2 linked regions of the Homo sapiens genome follow. The protein of the gene in region 2 purifies or fractionates together with the protein of the main gene of each other region. This does not show direct contact. Each region holds a gene or a part of one and is shown on either strand. Other genes may lie near its edges.

Region 1 (7,030 bases), on a different chromosome or scaffold from region 2:
CCCAAAGTGCTGGAATTATAAGCATGAGCCACCGCACCTAGCCAAGTTAAAAAAAAAAAAAAAGAAACTTGTGGAAATCGTAAATCACTTCACGGTGTGAAATACTGTTGCTATTTGAAATCATATGTCAAATATGCTCTCTTCTAGGGTTTCCTGAGGCTCAAGCTCTAGGACTGGAGGTGTTCCATGCAGGCACTGCCCTCAAAAATGGCAAAGTAGTAACTCATGGGGGTAGAGTTCTTGCAGTCACAGCCATCCGGGAAAATCTCATATCAGCCCTTGAGGAAGCCAAGAAAGGACTAGCTGCTATAAAGTTTGAGGGAGCAATTTATAGGAAAGACGTCGGCTTTCGTGCCATAGCTTTCCTCCAGCAGCCCAGGTAAAACTCTAAGCAAGTTAGCTGTAGTGCCATTTCAGAAACTGGCCTAAATGGCTATGTAGAACATTTCATTAACCCTATAAGTCATTCAGTATTCTTTTCTCTCTGTGGGAGTGATACAGTCTTGGTTTGTATTTTGTTTGAATCAAAACTGGTTATAGCAATACTCAAATGGAAAAAACTTCATGATAGCGTAAGTTTGGAAAGTTTAGCAAAATCACAGTGGTACTGATTTTTATTTGTTTTCTATTTTTTTTATTTTATATTTTTAATTTTTTTAACAGGGTCTTCCTCTCTCGCCCAAGTTCTCATGCCTCAGCCTCCCAAATAGCTGGGACTACAGGCACAGGCCACCACACCTGGCTAATTTTTTTGTATTTTTTGTGGAGATGGGGTTTCACCATGTTGCCAAGGCCAGTCTGAAATCCTGGGCTCAAGTGATCCTCCTGCTTTGGCCTCCCAAAATGCTGGGATTATAGGCATGAGCCGCTGCACTTGGCCTGATACTGATTTTTATTCCTTGCGTTATCACATAGTGTTGTATTTGAAACATAGTTCATGGTTTTATCAAAGAACTGAAGATGAGAATACTGGTCATCTAACTTTGTAATTTGATTTGATTATACTGTAAAGTTTGACAGTCTCATTTTATCACTGCGTTTGTATCTATTACTAAAATGTATTTTTTGACCTCTTACTGATTCATTGTTGGTATGTACAAACTGTTGACTTGTAAAATCAATAAAGTCTTAGTTGGAAATGTGGGTGTTTTGATTTCTTTTTTTTTTTTTTTTTTTTTTTGAGACAGAATTTTGCTCTTGTCGCCCAGGCTGGAGTGCAGTGGCATGATCTCGCCTCACTGCAACCTCCACCTCCCGGGTTCAAGTGATTCCCCTTCCTCAGCCTCCTGAGTAGCTGGGATTACAGGTGCCTGCCACCGTGCCCAGCTAATTTTTGTGTTTTTGGTAGACATGGGGTTTCACCATGTTGGCCGGGCTGGTCTCGAACTCCTGACCTCAGGTGATCTGCCTGCCTCAGCCTCACCAAGTACTGGGATTACAGGCGTGAGCCACCGTGCCCGGCCTGATTTCTTAAAAATATATCACATTTGCTATTGTTCGTGAAGTTCATTTACGGATAATGAATAAATTTTAAGACAAAATTTTTTTACCAACGTAATTCAAGCTATACTGTTACCAAGAGGCAGGTTTTTTTAAAGTTTAAACACAGATTTTCCAAGAATCAAGAACATCAAAATACCAGGCTAAAAATTTATTTTTCATTTAAAAATGACTAGATTCCATTGAAATGACCTATTTCAAGGGACTGCAATCTCAATTCTAGTCTGAATTATTTAAGTTATAAAGATGAAAAAATGGAAATGCCACAGTGTTAGTTGCTACTGGAGAAAAGGTTTTTTAACATCAGTCTTTGTTTTCTATCTGAGAGTGACCCAGAGCTGCTGGCTTTATTTGAGTTAACTGCCAATGCACTCAACTGTATTCTGGCAGCTTTTTTGTTTTTTGTTTTTGTATGCTTTTTTTAAAGACACTTCTATAAAAACACATATTTCTTCATGTATCACTGCATCCCAGCAGGCCAGAGTTCTCATTTTTGCAAGTCAAGACTACAAAATCTGCAGTGTCATTCAAAAATTTGATCTCTAAATGTACTGCTCCGACTTGTGGGTCCTATACAGAAGGAAATGATGCACTGAGTATCTTTACCTGGTTTTGCTTTTGTCATAGTGTTTACTGTCCTCAGCTATTAGGAAACAGATACAGTTATATATTACTGAAATTAAGAACTCAGTTTAATTATTTAGGGATACTTGTGTACGGTTTTTACAAATCTAATTTTCACTTTTTTGACTTGATTAGGCATTCCTCTCTTGTTCATACCAAAATTGAACTGAGAAAAGTTGCAGCAAAATGTCAGTATATCTACTTTTAAACAGATGGTTGCCAGGGTCTGGGGTAGTGGGGAATGGGGAGTTATTTAACTGGGACAGACGTTCAGTTTTACAAGATAAAGGATTATGGAGATGGATGATGGTGCCGGGTGCACAGCATTATAATTGTATTCAATACTATTGAACTGTTCACTTAAAAATGGTTAAGATGCTGAATTTTATGTTGTGTATATTCTACCTTAATAAAAAATCATTTAAAAGAATCAGTATATTTAGCAGCCTGTGAGAAGTACTTGTAGAAGAAATAGGTGATTGAGTTAGAATAGCGGTTCTCAGGGATGATGTAATCAAGTCAACTGGGGAGATGGTTCAAACTCATTTCAATTCCCAGAGCCTGCCCTAGACCAGTTAAATCAGAATCTGTATAGATGTGGCCCAGGCACTGACTTTAAAAAAATTTAAGCACTTTAGGGTATGTGAAAATCACTTGGGATATCTTCTGCTTTAAATAATATTTTAAGATTAAAATAATTTTCCCTGACGTTTAGGTGATGACTTGTTTTTAATTCTTTAGGAGTTTGACTTACAAGGAATCTGGAGTAGATATCGCAGCTGGAAATATGCTGGTCAAGAAAATTCAGCCTTTAGCAAAAGCCACTTCCAGATCAGGTCAGTGATCCTATACTTTGCTAATTCATTAACTTTGATATACATTGTGAATGGATTTGGGTTTTATATTTAACAGGAATATTTTCCAAAGCAATGCTTGGTTACTGTAAGTTTTGCCCTGCTTAAGCCAAACCCAGTCTTCTGCTTTCTTTTCTTTAATATTAAAGTATTTCTCATCTGTCATGTTAAACTCAAAAGGATATGTATGCTCCTTTACTTTTTTTTTTTTTTTTTTTGAGACAAGAGTCTTGCCCAGGCTGGAGTGCAATGGCACCATCTCGGCTCACTGCAACCTCTGCATCCTGATTTCAAGCGATTCTCCTGCCTCAGTCTCCCAAGTAATTGGGATTATAGGCACCCACCATCATGCCTGGCTAATTTTTGTATTTTTGTAGAGACATGATTTCACCATGTTGGCCAAGCTGGTCTTGAACTCCTGACCTCAGGCAATCTGCCCACCTCAGCCTCCCAAAGTGCTGGGATTATAGGCATGAGCCACCATGTCTGGCTGGTCCTTTAGTATTTAATTACTTCCTTTTTTTTTTTTTTTTTTTTTGAGACAAAGTCTGGCTCTGTCGCCCAGGCTGGAGTGCAGTGGTGCCATTTCGGCTAGCTGCAAGCTCTGCCTCCTGCATTCACGCCATTCTCCTGCCTCAGCCTCCCGAGTAGCTGGGACTACAGGTGCCCGCCACCACGCCCAGCTAATTTTTTTGTATTTTTAGTAGAGACGGGGTTTCACTGTGTTAACCAGGATGGTCTCGATCTCCTGACCTTGTGATCCACCCGCCTCGGCCTCCCAAAGTGCTGGGATTACAGGGGTGAGCCACCACGCCCAGCCTTAATTACTTTCTTAATCAATTCTTTGAGCACATGGTGCAATCTCTCATACTCAGGAAGGGCATCTCTTGTTTCAGCCATTCTTATGAACAAGTGGTATGTATATACATGTTTAACCTATTAACATGTTACATGTTAATCTATTAAATGATTACATTCTCCCAGTTGATTTGATTATGTCATCTCTGAGAACAGCTGTTCCAATCATCTATTTCTTCCAGAAGTACATCTCACAGGCCGCTAAATATACTGGTTTTTTTAAACTAGTAGACATTTAAATAATTACATGTTTAATCTATTAAAATGTAGCAAGTAATTAATTTCCTCTCCAACAGGCTGTAAAGTTGATCTTGGAGGTTTTGCTGGTCTTTTTGATTTAAAAGCAGCTGGTTTCAAAGATCCCCTTCTGGCCTCTGGAACAGATGGCGTTGGAACTAAACTAAAGGTAATCAGACACCTTTGTGAATAAAGGCCTTTTAGGAAAGATGAGGAAATTTATATCAAATATGTATTTTTCTTCTCTTGACATATATGAGCTAAAAAGGACCATGCCAAATAACCATGTAAAATGGCTAAAATATCTGCACATTTCTAATAACAAATTATTATTTAGATTATATTTGGATGGAAGGGTACTTTAGAGGATAAAAGGGGATGCTTTTAGACCAAGTAGCTTGTCAGAATTTCGTGTTCTTTTGTTTTTAGGTGTTAAGAGCAGCTAATCAAATGGATAAGATACAATTTTGAACTTATTCCCTAATGTGGATGTTTATATTGTTCTTACATAGATTGCCCAGCTATGCAATAAACATGATACCATTGGTCAAGATTTGGTAGCAATGTGTGTTAATGATATTCTGGCACAAGGAGCAGAGCCCCTCTTCTTCCTTGATTACTTTTCCTGTGGAAAACTTGACCTCAGTGTAACTGAAGCTGTTGTTGCTGGAATTGCTAAAGCTTGTGGAAAAGCTGGATGTGCTCTCCTTGGTATGATCAGCCATTTTAATCAATAACATGTCATTCTTCTTTTTGTGTTTTAGCCCTATGTAAAAATGTGATCAGTGCCAATGTAGCTAGCAAGAGAGACTGTATATCACAAGATGCATATATGTGATATGCACAAATGAAATATAGGTAAAACTACCTGAATTAAATTTAGAGCCTGCTACCTTCAAAGCCCTCCTCAGGGGTTTGTCCTCTAGACCCGTACTCCCAAACTGTCAGGCAGGCCTTATCTTTCTTCCCAATTTTTGGCCACCTTTTAACATCCCCATCAGTCTCAGTAGCCTCCTCAACAAACAGGTCTAGGAGTTATTTCCTCCTTATTGACCCCACGGTACAGGCAGATGGGTTCCTGGCATTCCGGATCTTAACTAAAGCCAAATTTTCCCATAGAGTGACATAAATAATAATATACGCCCAAGTTTTATAGAAGTATCTTTATACATGAAATGTTTGAGCAAAATGAATCTGTAGGTTGATCAAGGAACAAAATAACCTCTTTTTTTAATTTAAAAAAAAAAAAAAGGGAATCTCTCTCTGTCACCCAGGTTGGAGTGCAGTGGTTCAATCACAGCTCACTGCAGCCTTGACCTCCTGGGTTCAAGGGATCCTCCTGCTTCAGCCTCCCAAGTAGTTGGGAACTACAGGCATGTGTCACCAACCCAGCTAATTTTTGTACTTTTTGTAGAGATAGGGTTTTGCCATGTTGCCCAGGCTGGTCTTGAATTGCTGGGCTCAAGCTATCTTCCCATCACAGCCTCCCAAAGACACTGCCTCTTTTTTTTTTTTTTTTTTTAAACAGAGTCTTGCTCTGTCACGCAGTCTGGAGTGCAGTGGCGCAATCTTGGCTCACTGCAAGCTCTGCCTCCTGGGTTCACACCATTCTCCTGCCTCAGCCTCCCGAGTAGCTGGGACTACAGGTGCCCGCCACCACACCCGGCTAATTTTTTCTATTTTTCAGTAGAGATGGGGTTTCACCGTGTTAGCCAGGATGGTCTCAATCTCCTGATCTCGTGATCTGCCTGCCTCGGCCTCCCAAAGTGCTGGGATTACAGGCATGAGCCACCGTGCCCGGCCAGAAACTGCCTCTTTTATATGACCATTTAAACCAGAAATTGTGCCATCTTGCATCTGCACATGTGTGCATCTAATCTCAGCTGGTCTACCCAGGACCCCTTGAGCACCAACCCTAGTCCTCCACATGACCCTTTTCCACGCTGACAAGATGAAAGAAACAACCAAATTGCAGGCACAATTGCGTAATGATGGAAAAGAAACAGAAAGAAGGTGGTTCAGCTACAGCAGATGATAAAAACTTCAGTTCTCCTTAAGAAGTTAAGGGTAAACAATATCTCTGGTATTGAAGGGGTGAGTATGTTTACAAATGAAGACCAGAGATCCACTTTAACAACCTAAAATGCTGGTAGCATTTCTCTGGGGCAGTGAACACTTTCACCATTACAGGCCATGCTGAGACAACGCAGCTGATAGAAATGCTACCAGCATCTTAAACCAGCTTGGTGCAGACAATCTGACTAGTTTAAGGAGACCGACTGAAGCTCTGCCCAAATAGTCTGTGGATGGAAAAGCACTGCTTGCTAATGGAGGGGATGGTGATGAAGTTCTAGATCTTGTAAGGAGTTTTGATGAGGCTATTAAGAATGAGGCAAACTGAATTGAGTCAACTTCTGAAGAAGAAAAAATATGAAGTAACTAGGAGCTGCTATTTTACATTATGACTGCTTTCTGAAATTGTTTATGGATCTGATAAAATTTAGATCTCTAATATTTTAAGCCCCATTCCTGTTGGACACTGCAGCTCTTTTCAGTTTTTGCTTATACACAATTTCTTCTTTTTTTTTTTTCTTTTTGAGATGGAGTCTTGCTCTGTGACCCAGGCTGGAGTGCAGTGGCACAATCTCGGCTCGCTGCAACCCCCACCTCCCAGGTTCAAGCAATTCTCCTGCCTCATCCTCCCAAGTAGCTGGGATTACAGGCATAAGCCACCACACCTGGTTAATTTTTGTGTTTTTAGTAGAGACAGAGTTTCGCCATGTTGGCCGGGATAGTCTCGAACTCCTGACCTGATCCACCTGCCTCGGCCTCCCAAAGTGCTGGGATTACAGGCGTGAGCCACGATGCCCAGCCCACAATTTATTCTTTGTAGCTAATTAAGCTAAAGAAGCCTGGGAATAAAGTTTGAAACAAACAAAAATTGCCTTTCAACCACC
Region 2 (7,700 bases):
ACAGTGAAACCCCGTTTCTACTAAAAATACAAAAAATTAGCCGGGCGTGGTGGGGGGCGCCTGTAGTCCCAGCTACTCGGGAGGCTGAGGCAGGAGAATGGCGTGAACCCGGGAGGCGGAGCTTGCAGTGAGGGGAGACTGCGCCACTGAACTCCACCCCAGCCTGGGAGACAGCGAGACTCTGTCTCAAAAAAAAAAAAAAAATCAAGAAGATAATATATAAGAAATAAATTCCTTCATCAAAAAGGAAAAAAACACAATCAAACCTTTTTGCAGTTGTTTTAAAACTAACCAGTGAGTGAATGAGGGTGAGAAAGTGAAAACAGAGCTTTCTGCAACAGACCACCACTTCTCAGAGTACGATATATATATACATATATACATACACACACGTATTTTATATATATATATATAAAACTAAACTAAAAGAAAAAGTTCTTAGTTTTATTCTGGCCCTTATCTATCAGTTTCGAGCAGCAGATAATTGTATTTCCAAGACATAAGGGAGTGTCATTGTTCTTCCAAGCAGAATCAGTCCTCCCAAAGGATGAGCACTTTAGCTCATGTAAAATTTTGAATTGATTATGGGTGAGAACCAGCCCTCTTTGTGCACCTTAATGATTCTATGCCTACACAAGAGAAATGTTAAATTGTTTTTCAGTAATACATTTGTTCCTCAAAACCACATAATCACATCATTATTGCCCTTATCTGGTATTATTTAATCTTACAATTCTTTCACAGAAAAGCAACTATAGAAAACAGATATATGTAACCAGGAATCAAATGGTATTCATTAAAAAAAAAAAAAAAGAAAAAAAAAACCTATAACCATGAATACCAAGTATTTTCCTAAACTGGGTACTAAAACTCCAACCAGTGCTAACATGTAAGTTAAAAAAAAAAAAAAGCCTCTTTTTCTTCAGGCACACATTTAAAGGGAAGGAGAAAGGGGGATGAAAATTTCTTGAATAACTTTGGCAAAAAAAGTAAATATAGTGAAGTACAGTTCATACATATTTTCTACAGACCACCAGGCAACCCTAAAGACCTCTAGATTCTCCCTCACCCCCATGACAGAGTATCCAAAATAACAACTGTTTTTTTTTTTTTGAGACGGAGTCTCGCTCTGTCGCCCAGGCTGGAGTGCAGTGGCGTGATCTCTGCTCTCTGGAACCTAAGCCTCCCGGGTTCAAGCGATTCTCCTGCCTCAGCCTCCGGAGTAGCTAGGACTACAGGAGCGCATCACCACACCCAGCTAATTGTATTTTTAGCAGAGATGGGGTTTCACCATGTTGGCCAGGATGGTCTCGATCTCTTAACCTCGTGATCCGCCCGCCTCGGCCTCCCAAAGTGCTGGGATTACAGGCGTGAGCCACCGCGCCTGGCCATAGTTTCTAAGAATGTTACAAACTAATGTTGCTCACAACTACCACATAATCAAGAGTTTACTTTCTCCTTGGATTACGTAACTAATTTTCTCAATAAACTTTTTTTAAAAAAAACAAGAAATCTATTATGGTCAACCCACAATTATCCAAGATTGGAGCTACGCAAGTTAAAAATATTCTTTTTGATGCTTCCCACATTCTCAGCTCTTTAGTAAACAAGGAACACACAAAATGTGAAACTGAAATTGAAGTACCTGGGACAATGAAAACAGCAAAAAATACTTCTAATTTAAGTTTGGTGGAGGAAAAGCTAATCTTTTGGAATGCGTTTATACGTGTTGCACCCATTTTGCTGTTACGTGTTATTGCCAAGTTCCTTAACTGTAGTGTAAGTTGTTACCACTGTATTGCCTTATGGAAACTGTAATACTTTCAGTAAGAATATCAAACCCAGGTTTGTTTTTCTTATCCTAGTGTAATAATTTATATCAACTTCCAGTTAAGTCAGGTAGTAAGAAAAGGAAAGATCACCGAAGCAAAGTAATTTTTTTTAACTCGAAAGGATCTCCCAATTTTTCAAAATCAAGTGTATGGATCTTGGCATAGAGACACTACTCCCCTGTCCCCCTTTTGAAGAAGGGAGTTAATTTTTGTCATGTTATTACCAACGTTTTCATTCATTAGGCAAGACGTCTACCAATGAATCTTTTCCAGATGCACTGTTCCCTATGGTTGGCTTATTTCCATTTAATTTATGTGAGATCTACTACCAGTAGTCATTCTCAACATCAACTAGTCATCTTTCCCTGGGTCTGAAGTCTAGCATCCTCAAGTTCCCATAGCGATAACTACTTTCAAACCCATAATCTGCTCAATAGCTCTGCCCTTGCAAACAAAAGCTTGTGGTGGTTGGAGGCCCCGCGCGAAAACCTTTAGGTGTTGAAGGACCTGGACTGGCCGCCACGCCACACTAGCCTATTACAGGAGCAGCCACAGGCTCCGGGAGACTAGAACCCGCCTGCAGTCGGGGAGGAGCCCTGACCCAGCTAGACCAAGCAAACCGGCGGTTTACAAGCTGGCCAGCCTCTGGATGGGTGCACACACCGGGGGGCGGGGAGGGAGAGAGCCCCTAAAAGGCATAAGTGGCTGGGAGGGTGGGCAGGACAGGCTAAAGTTCATGGAAGCGAGGTGCCCCTCGTGCACGCCTAGGCAACCCGGTCGACGCCACAGGCAGGTACTGGCTTAGGTCGGAGAGGTCGGTCCTCCCGGGCCCTCGGGCGCTCATGAGAACGCCGACTGCGGGAAGCGGCTCCGAGAGATGGAGACGCACGCCCCCGCCACCCCCACCCTGTTGCTCACCGGTGCTGCAGCCCCACGAGTCCCAGAGTGATCACATGCGGTACATCCAGCTGCGTGGGCCACTCTCCTGAGGCGATGCACCCGAACACGCCACATTCCTCTCGGATCCCCAACTCCTCCAGCTCCATGTCGCCGCCGAAAGCACGTGGAAGGACCTGCCGCTGCGGCCAAGGTGTAAGCACCAACCAGCTGCCAGCTCGGCCCGTCGAGCTCAGAAGCTCGCGCTCGCGACAGGCTCTTCCTTCCCGAGGGTGGCCCCAGCTACTGCGGCGGCGCGCGCTGTCCCTAGGTGGCGTGGCCAGCTCAGCCCTGCTCCTCCCCCTCCGAGTCCACCAACGAGCGAGGGCGGAGGGGCGGTCCCGCGGCTGAGGGGCGGGGTCACGGATGCTGTAGGGTGGAGCTAGCCTTCCCCTAAGAGCTGCCTGGAAAGCTGTATTTGCTGCACGTGGAAATCTCCGTTATTTTCCAGCACCCAACAGTAGCGTAATGGGAGTAACGGACTTAACCTCATTTCTCTTTCAGAGCATTTAGCCTTCATATGCCCTTCCCTGCATGCTTCCCCCAGGCCGTCAAGACTTGGTACGCTCCAACTTCTGAGTCGCTCCCGCAGCCGAGAAGGGGCCGGGGTATGCGAGCTTCCGCAGAGTGGGGAGGGGCCGCCAGTGCGCGCCACTTTTCGCCTGTCCGGGCACTGCGCCAGCGCGGGGCGGCCCGGAGGCGGGGTCGCGTCTCTGCGCCTGCGCGGCGGGAAGCCAGTGGGGCGTTGTTTCGTCCGATATCCGCGTTTCAGTCTCCGCCCATACCCCTCCGGGTTAGGCGGCTGTAGCGGAGCTCGAAAAGAGTGGCGCAGGGTCGCGCGGCCCCGCCTCCTTCCCCGCCCAGCGAAGCTCTCTGACCACCCCTCTTTTCTAGAGTTCTGCCTCGCTTCCCGGCGCGGTCGCAGCCCTCAGCCCACTTAGGATAATGGCGACAGCTGAGGGTGAGTAACAGGGATCCGGGCCCTTCACGGTCTCCCTGACCCCCAGGCCGTGAGCTCGCGGCCACGTGCGAGCCGCGAAACTCTGTCCCGCCTCCCTGCAGCAGCGCCTCTAGGCAGCCGCGCGGGCGCACACGTGGCCCAGGCGCTCCCGGGCCTCCCCGAACTTTACTGCCTCGGGGATGGGGAGAAGGAGCAAAGTAGAGGAGAACGAGAAATGGCCAAGGGGTGGAAAGGTGCCTGGAAGTATTATTTATAATCAATAGCTATTGCAAAATACAAGCAAATCAGTCTTGATTCGTCAAAACCTGAGTCTTGCTTTGCCCGTTAGGTTAATGACCTTTCTAAGAAGGTTAATAATTGAAACTTTTGAAAGACCTGTCTAGAGGCCGGGCCTGGTGGCTCACGCCTGTAATCCCAGCACTTTGGGAGGCCAAGGCGGGCGGATCACCTGAGGTCAGTAGTACGAGACCAGCCTGGCCAACATGGCGAAACCCCGTCTCTTACTAAAAATACAAAAAATTAGCTGGACGTGGTGGCGCGCGCCTGTAATCCCCAGCTACTCAGGAGGCTGAGGTAGGAGAATCGCTTGAACCCGGAGGCGGAGGTTGCAGTGAGCCGAGATCGCGCCATTGCACTCCAGCCTGGGCGACAAAGCGAGACTCCGTCTCAAAAAAGAAAAAGAAAAACCTGTCTAGGGGGCGTGTGTGTAAGTAGTCTTTGATGCCATGGTGTGTGTGTGTGTGTGCACGCGCGCGTGAAGTAGTCTTTGATGCCACGATAGCTTGGGGTGTGTGTACGTGCGTGTGCGTGTTTAAGTAGTCTTTGATGTCATGGGTGTGTATGTGTGTGCGCGCGCGTGTTGAAGTAGTCTGATTCCATGATGGCTGGGGAGGGGGGCTGTTTTTAGGTAGTCTTTGATGCCATGATGGTGTGTGTGTGTGTGTGTGTGTGTGTGTGTGTGTGTGTGTGTTCGTTCCAGTAGTCTTTGATGCCACGATGGCTTTGAAGAACTCCAAAACCTTTAGGCAAAAAAGTTGCACTATCAGGAAAGATTGTTCTTGCTATTTATGCTGGAAAAAAACAAATGCTGGTTTTTTCCACACACCCAGTTGCTATATGTATAGTGAGGCAAATTGCTTTTGTGGCTGCTGGGTACATTCTTTTCCACATAGAAAGTAACTGAATTCAGATTTTAAAAAGCTGTAGACTCAGGCCGGGCGCTGTGGCTCACGCCTGTAATCCCCAGCACTTTGGGAGTCCCAGGCGGGCGGATCACGAGGTCAGGAGATCGAGATCATCCTGACCAACATGGTGAAACCCCGGCTCTACTAAAAATGCAAAAATTTGCTGGACGTGGTGGCGTATGCCTGTAATCCTAGCTACTCGGGAACCTGAGGCAGGAGAATCACTTGAACCGGGGAGTCAGAGGCTGCAGTGAGCCGGGATCGCGCCACTGCACTCCAGCCTGGCGACAGAGAGAGACTCTGTCTCAAAAAAAAAAAAAAAAAAAAAAAAAAGCTGTAGACTCAGCAAAAAAGATTCAGATGATATTGAGTATCAACTCCCTAGAATCAAGGCAAGGACCAGAATTTTTCTTGCAATCATGGTACCTGTACCTCTAAAATGGCAAATCTCTAAAATCTTTGCTCTTCCACTTCTTTCCATTTGTGTACCGTTGGCAGGTTGATTTTTCTTAAATGTCACTTTTATGGTCTCTAAAAGGCAAAAGTGGCAACAAAGGCAAAAATGGCATCTCTAGAGATGTTAAATCCAGTCTGTCCAGTCTGAAATCCCTTTTCATTCAAATCCTGAATACTGCTATCCCTTCTACCTCTTCAGCCCTAACTTTGATTTTTCTCTCCTGTGAATCCTTAGCTATGTTCCAGTCAGGTTAATTCACCAAAGTTTGTTTTTCATTATATACATTTTATTTATATTATTTTTCCCAGAACATTGCTGGCTAATGGAAATATAATGTAAATTTGTCTTCTATAAGCCACATTTTAAAAAGTAAAATAATAAAAAAAACTGGTGCAATGTGTTTATATATATATATATATATATATATATATATAAAAGGTTTTTTTTGTTGTTGTTTTTTGTTTGTTTTGCTTTGTTTTTGAAATGGAGTCTCGCTCTGTGTGGCCCAGGCTGGAGTGCAGTGGCAAGATCTCAGCTCACTGCACCCTCCACTTTCCAGGTTCAAGTGATTCTCCTGCCTCAGCCCCCCAAGTAGCTGGGATTACAGGCACACTCCACCACACCCGGCTAATTTTTTTTTGTATTTTTTAGTAGAGTCAGGGTTTTGCCATGTTGGCCAAGCTGGTCTCAAACTCCTGACCTCAAGTGATCTGCCTGTCTCAGCCTCCCAAAGTGCTGGGATTACAGGCGTGAGCCCATTTTAATATATTTTATTTAACCCTATATACACAAAATACATTTCAACATGGAGTCAAGATGAAAAATTCTTTAGATATTTTACAATTTTTTATATCGAATGCAGTATATATTTTAACAAATGACATTTCAACTTGTAATAGCCACATTTCTAGTGGCTGCCTTATTGGACAGCAGAGTCCTAGAATTTTCTTATCCTTTGTGTAAATTCTGTGCTTTCCCAGACTCTTAAATTTCAATTCCATGAATCATTTTCAGTCCTCATCAATCTTTCCAGAATTCATCTACAAATTTGTAGCAACCATTTTGGTACTTGCAGGGTATGTCACGTATGGTTGTTTCTTATGTTGTTTCTACCCATTAATTCAAATTCCTTCCCTCTTTAATGACTAAGTAATACAGATTCAACTAAATTAAGGGGAGGGGCATTAGATACAAACTTTGCCCGGGCTTACTGCATATTAATATATATAAATGTTAATTTCTTTATCTGATCTGGGCACTGTTTTTTTTGTTTTTGTTTTTTCTTGAGACGGAGTCTCCCTCTCTTGCCCAGGCTGGAGTGCAGTGGCGCCATCTCAGCTCACTGCAACCTCCGCCTTTCAGGTTCAAGCGATTTTCCTGCCTCAGCCTCCCAAGTAGCAAGGATTACAGGCGTGCACCAACACATCCGGCTAATTTTTGTAATTTTAGTAGAGACAGGATTTTACCATGTTGGTCAGCCTGGTCTTGAACTCCTAACCTCAAGTGATCCGCCCGCCTCGGCCTCCCAAAGTGCTGGGATTACAGGCATGAGCCACTGTTCCCGGCCCACTGTTCTTTACCCTTCCCTCTCTTTTATCCTCCATGATGAATTCTCAAAGCTACTATCTTAAATATCTTGCATCTTTGCCCACTACTCTTTCCTTAGACCAAGACATTTCTTTTTCTTTTCCTTTTTTTTTATTGAGACAGGGTCTCACTCTATCACCCAGGCTTGAGTGAAATAGTGCAAATCTTGGCCCACTGCGGCCTCGACCTCCCCAAGTAGCTGAGACTACAGGCATGCACCACCATGCTGGGCTAATTTTTGTTTTTTTGGTAGAGATGGGATTTTGCCCTGTTGCCCAGGCTGGTCTTGAACTCCTGAGCTAAAGCAATCTGCCCTCCTTGTCTTCCTAAAGTGCTGAGATTACAGATGTGAGCCACTGCACCTGGCCAGACGTTTCTTGTTCAAGTTACTGCAACAGCATCCTAACTGGTCTTCCAAGCTCTAGTTTTTGTTCACTCACCCCTTCCTCCCTTCATTGTCCATACAGAAGCCGTAATGATCTTTCCAAATAGCGTTTTGCTTTAGCACTTAAAAGCCTTATAGCTCTTCTTGGGTTAAAGTCTAAACTCAATCAGCATGGCTTGTGAAACAAGAAGGATGTGTAGCAAAATGGAAGGGAAGTTTTCCAGGCCTAGGAAAGAAGAGATTGTCAGAAGCTAGGGGAAGATTGTATAAGAATTAAAGATGTTGGAGTTCTAGATAGGAAATAGACAAATAAGAGTTTGGAGCAGTAAGCCAGGGCTGTATCTTAAAGGGACTTTTA

What was found. Proteins that work in one complex are often made in the same cells at the same time.
Region 1: the proteins of PPAT (region 2) and GART fractionate together in Homo sapiens (co-fractionation; 2 studies listed by BioGRID). This does not show direct contact.

What each region holds. Positions count from the first base shown.
Region 1 is NC_000021.9:33,518,118-33,525,147, reverse strand, and holds part of GART (trifunctional purine biosynthetic protein adenosine-3), read left to right. Parts: intron 1-147; coding exon 148-379; coding exon of another isoform or gene 380-383; exon of another isoform or gene 384-1,139; intron 1,140-2,865; coding exon 2,866-2,960; intron 2,961-4,132; coding exon 4,133-4,242; intron 4,243-4,585; coding exon 4,586-4,784; intron 4,785-7,030. UniProt on the Homo sapiens protein: Trifunctional enzyme that catalyzes three distinct reactions as part of the 'de novo' inosine monophosphate biosynthetic pathway.
Region 2 is NC_000004.12:56,432,600-56,440,299, forward strand, and holds the start of PPAT (amidophosphoribosyltransferase), read right to left. Parts: upstream 3,017-7,700; 5' UTR 2,879-3,016; coding exon 2,751-2,878; intron 2,346-2,750; exon of another isoform or gene 1,231-2,345; coding exon of another isoform or gene 1,117-1,230; intron 1-1,116. Other genes in the region: PAICS (bifunctional phosphoribosylaminoimidazole carboxylase/phosphoribosylaminoimidazole succinocarboxamide synthetase), read left to right, coding at 3,663-3,729. UniProt on the Homo sapiens protein: Catalyzes the formation of phosphoribosylamine from phosphoribosylpyrophosphate (PRPP) and glutamine.